Linked DNA regions of Homo sapiens: region 1 is linked to region 2. The links come from fine-mapping of genetic effects on gene expression. Tissue or cell type: whole blood. Region 2 holds a variant in brackets; the other region holds the start of a gene. All regions are shown on one strand. Distances are from middle to middle.

The links. PIP is the estimated chance that this variant, and not a neighbour inherited with it, causes the effect.
Region 1: TNRC6A starts here. The variant in region 2 is fine-mapped to the expression of TNRC6A in whole blood (INTERVAL, PIP 0.99).

Annotation. Positions count from the first base shown.
Region 1 is chr16:24,728,536-24,731,220 of GRCh38, reverse strand. It overlaps TNRC6A (trinucleotide repeat containing adaptor 6A), which reads right to left and starts at 1,570. Exons shown (of 25, transcript NM_014494.4): 1 at 1,375-1,570; 2 at 921-968. The coding sequence starts at 1,379. RefSeq lists a silencer at 1,232-1,541.
Region 2 is chr16:24,855,607-24,858,291 of GRCh38, reverse strand. All of the region lies in intron 2 of SLC5A11 (solute carrier family 5 member 11), which reads right to left. Among named protein-coding and RNA genes, the nearest start is that of SLC5A11, 11 kb to the right of the region's middle. The variant C/T (reference allele first, on the strand shown) is at 1,282.

The DNA of each region.
Region 1 (2,685 bases), 130 kb after region 2:
AACAAGTGAAAAAAAAGAAAAAAAGAAAGCTATTCACGGATTTGGTTAATTGGCTAAGTTTCCCTGAGTGTCCCAATATGATGCAAAAGAAAAAGGGGAATAAGAAAGGAAAAGACGGTAGGAAAGAAAATGAATGTGAAAAGGAGTTAAATACAGTACAATTCCTTGATGCTTAAGCAATTACAGCTCAATGAAGCTAAATATTTCCATTCCATAAAGACATCGTTTAAAAAAAAAAAAAAATTCTCCCTTCACGGTGATGCAAAAGCAGCAGGGCCCAACAGGAACGATAACCTCTTCTGGAGAAAAGATTTTTAATTATTTTACCAGCTGATAAAAAGAGCACACACCGAACATGGACAGAAATGGAGTTTCGAAGGAAAACAAAACGCAGCTTATGCTTGGTAAAGTTCAAGGACAAAACTGTGTCCAATGCAACAGAATCCGCCTGACTACAATGTATGGGGGGGGGGGGGGGGCGGGGGGGAATGCGAACACATAGTATCTTTTTATAAAAGCAACAATTTGAGCTACAAAGTAATAACGGGGAAGCCAAAACAGTTTGACAGCCCGCCATAAGGGCCGCCTCAATCATGAGTCACACAATGCCTGCAACCATTTACAATAGTAATTAATGCACAAGTCCCCTAATTAAATTCTAAAAGGGTGAGAATGCTTTAACTAAGTTTACAAGAATTGCTTTGCGCTTTTTTTTTTTTTTTTTAAAGAAAGAAACACACGCGTAATTACGCATCTCCCCGCAATCCCTCCAGTATTCCCCCAGGCCGCTTCTCCCGAATGTCTGCTCTCCGGGTGCGGAAGAAAATGTCACGGGGGAACTTCTCAACCCAGAAAAGGCGAATCGGAGTAGAAATATACGATTATCGTGGGGCGGGAGACGGAAAGCTCGCCCATCTTACCTGCTAAGATTTCTTTCTACGTCTTTGGTAGCTTTAGCTTCCAATTCTCTGAAACAAAAAAACAAAAACAAAAACAAAACAAAAACACACACACAAAAACGAGATGCGCGTGAAAACGGAGCTGCTGCGGCAGAGGCTCGCGCCGGGGCCGGATGGGGGAGGGGAGAGGACGGGGGGAGGGGGACTCACAAAGCTGCGGGGCTGCAGCCCGGACTGCGGTCCCGCGGCGCGGGCGAGGCGCAACCCCGGCCTGGCCCCCGCGGCGCGGCGCAGCGAGGCTCCCCCGGGCCGCCCGCTCGGCCTCCGCAGCAACGCAGCCTGCGCCCTCCCGCCGAGGCCCGAAGTCTCGGGGACGCCCGGCGCCGCCGCCTCTGCTGCCGCCGCCGCGGGTTGCGGGCCCTGCGGCAGCGCCCGCGGCTCCTCCCGCCCGGAGGGAGGCCCTTGTTCCGCTCACCTCATGTGTGTAAAGTGCACGAGCAAGTGGGGCGCGGCGAAGGAGGCTCGCGAGCCTCAAGCCCTCCGCAGCGCCGCGGGGAGAGGCCCGAGCCGCTGCACCAGCGCCATTTTCTACACCGACCCGCTGCCGCCGCCGCCGCCGCCGCCGCCGCCGCCGCCGACACCGCCGCCGCCGCAGGCCCCAGACCGGAAGTGAATGCCCCACTCGGCAACCCCTTCCGGGGGCGCCACGGCCACTGGCCCCCAAGATGGAGGCCCTAGCAACTGGACCCGCAGATTGGGCAGGTCCTTGGCAACCGCCCCGGCGTGTCACGCTGCACCCAGCCGGACCTCCCTGGAGGTCACAGCCTCCGAGGCGCCCCGCGGAGTGGCTGGGGGGGCCTGCGGAGTCCCGAGTCCAACCTTTTTCGGTGCGGCCGGCTCCGGTCTGACCGAGGAGGGGAGTCCCTCCCCTCCTCCTCCTTCTTTGCTGCGACACAAGTTTCCTACCCGCCGCCCGGCCCCTCCCCCACTGACACACGCCAAAAAAAAAAAAAAAAAAAATTGCCTAAAACGCAAATTTTACCCCAACTGCAGCCTGATGAGCCCGCGCGGCTTTTGAATTCAGCCACTTCTAATTATTTTTGACCTTGGGCCAGTTATTTAACCTCTCTGCTTCTCTGTTCCTCCTCAGGTAAAGAATGCATACCTGAGGCGGGTTGTGAGGCTTAAAAGCGATTTTTATCCACCGACCTTTGACTCAGCAGTTCCGCCTGCACGGATTTTCTGCTCAGGAAATAATTCTGGGTATCTGCAAATATTTCACCTTCGAGATACTAAGCTGTGGTATTGATGATGGTGAAAAATTGCAAACAGCCAAAATGTCCAGCGCTACTAGATGGCTTCAAAAACAGCTACTGGCATGTATTAGGACACTGTAAAAATGATGTGGAGGAATAATCCCGGCATGGAGGAAATGGTTGCAATAGAATAAATGAAAAAGCAGGTTCCAACGTAGCTCACACAGTAAGAAACATCTTAGTGTAGACACAGTAAGATACATACATGTAGATAGACTAAGATATGTATATATGTAGACACAGATGCATATGTGTACATTAAAAGTATACATACATACCTACATGTAGATACAATAAGACATACATATCTGCAGGTAGATACAACAATACACATACATGTAGATACAGTAAGATACATATTTTCACTTGCGTGTGTTCTTTCCAACCTCTCATCAAGCTTTTTCTTCTAATTTAAAGATAATTCCTCCTCTGTGCTTAAAATCTATAACCTTTACTTTCTCAGAAACCCC
Region 2 (2,685 bases):
GACACCTGAGTCAGTCTCCACTTCCGTGGTACCTCACAGCTGGGTGAGAGTCAAGTCAACAATTTTGTCCAAGGCTCAGCCAGACACCATAATCTTGTTCCAATGCTACATATACCATGAAATTTAATATATTTAATAAACACTCATATTGCATCTACTATATCCTGGGCATCATTCTAAGTGTTTACTAACCTGCAAAGTGGGCACTATTGTTATCATCCCCATTTTACAGATGGTGAAGTTGAGACACAGAGACACAGAAAAGTTAAGTAAGTGCCCAAGGTCATAAAGCTGAGATTTGAACTCAATAATCTTGCTCCAGAATCCATGCTTTGAGCCACTAATCTAAGCAGTTTTCTCAGTACCCTGCAAATCCATGGGCAATTTAAGGAAATCTTGTGGTAGACAGAGAAATGGCCCCCAAAGATGCTTACCTCTAATCCCCAGAACCTGTGAATATGTTGTTACATATCAAAGGACAATTAAGTTTGCAGATAAAATTAAGGTTGGTAGTCAAATCACTTAAAATTGGGAGATGCCTAGCTGCAGCTAACCTGAAAATAGGGAGATGCCTGGATTAACTGGGTGGGCCCCATGTAATCACAGTAAAAACAGAATCAGAAGAGATAGCCACAGAGATGACAGCATGAGAAGGATTTCACTCAACGTTGTTAGATTTGAAGATGGGGTAATGGAGCTACAAGCCAAGGAGTGCAGGTGGCTTCTAGGAACTGGAAAAGGCAAATTAATAGATTCTTCCTTAGCACATCCAGAAGGAATTCAGTCCTGCTGACACCTTGATTTTAGCCCAGTAAGACCCATTTAGAACTTCTAACCTCTGTAACTGTAAGGTCATAAATTTATGTTGTTTTAGCCACTAAGTTCATGGTAATTTGTTAAAGCAGCAGTCAGAAACTAATAAAATTTCCAAGGGTGATTTTTGACCACAAGTGATCAGGGCATTGACTTATTTCTGTGTTAAGATGCAACTCCACTCTGTTGGCCTTTGGGCATTCCGGAATGAAAATACTTGATCCTTGCCATCTTGCAATGCACAGCCCAGTGATGGGACAAAGCCACCCATGGACAACAACAGCACAACGTGATGTTTCACAGAGGGCAGGTTCATGGGGAGAGATGTTAAGAATTCAGGCTCCGAAGCTGTACACCTTGGCCGGGCTCAGTGGCTCATGCCTATAATACCAGCACTTCGGGAGGCCGAGGTGAGTGGATCCCATGAGGCCAGGGGTTCAAGTCCAACCTGGGCAACGTGGTGGACCC[C/T]GTCTCTACTAAAAATACAAAAATTAGCTGGGTGTGGTGGCGCATGCCTGTAGTCCCAGCTACTCAGGAGGCTGAGGCATGAGAATTGCTTGAATCTGGGAGGTGGAGGTTGCAGTGAGCTGAGATTGTACCACTGCACTCCAGCCTGGGCAAAAAGAGCAAGACCTTGACTCCACCATTTACACTTAGCTAAGTTTATTTTATTTTATTTTATTATTTTTATTTATTTATTTATTTTTTGAGATGGAGTCTCACTCTGTCTCCCAGGCTGGAGTGCAGTGGCCTGATCTCGGCTCACTACAAGCTCTGCCTCCCCGGTTCACACCATTCTCCTGCCTCAGCCTCCTGAGTAGCTGGGACTACAGGCGCCCACCACCACGCTCAGCTAATTTTTTTTTTTTTTTTTTTTTTTTGTATTTTTAGTAGAGATGGGATTTCACCGTGTTAGCCAGGATGGTCTCGATCTCCTGACCTCGTGATCCACCCACCTCGGCCTCCCAAAGTGCTGGGATTACAGACGTGAGCCACTGCGCCCGGCCTATTTTATTTTTTAAGAGACAAGGTTTCCCTATGTTCCCCAGGCTGGCCTTGAACTCCAGCCTCAAGAAATCCTCCCACCTTGGCCTCCCAAAGTGCTGGGATTACCAGCCCAGCCAAGGTACATTTTTAAAGTAAGAAAAAACTCCAACACTTTTCATTTTATGCAATCTGAAGGTAGGTTGTGGACTCAGATAGTGATAAATGGGATTTTCGCCCACATGAATGTCTGGTGGGTCCTCTGAAAATCTTTATTGCGTGGGCAATACACATTTCAGGAAGTCTAGAATTTCAGGCCTCCCCCTGCTGAATGCCAGTAGCACTCCCAAATTATTGTGACAACCAAAAATGCTCTCATACATTTTGAAACATCTCTGAAGGCCAGGAACACCTCCAGTGCACACATGTGCTCTGGGTTAAAGGATGTCAGTGAGGAATTTCTAATAAGAAAGTGGTATGATCAGACAGGGGGCAGCCTTGATGAGAAGCAAGAACGCGGGCAGGGAGGTTATTCTGGAGGTAGTGACTCCGGCTTGAGACCATACATAAGCAGGGGTTAGTCCATTCCTACTGTTACAATCAAATACCTTAGACTGTGTAATTTGTAAACAACATAAATTTATTGCTCACAGTTCTGGAGAAAGTCCAAGATCGAGCTGTCAGCAGATTCAGTGTCTGGTGAGGGCCCGTTCCTCATAGGTGGCACTTGCTTGCTATGTCCTCATATGGTAGATGGATGGGTCAAGTTGGCTCTCTCAAGCCTTTTTGTTTTATTTTTATTTATTTATTTATTTATTTATTTTGAGACAAGGTTTCACTTTGGTGTCCAGACTGGAGTGCAGTGGCACAATCACTTTTTCTCTTTTT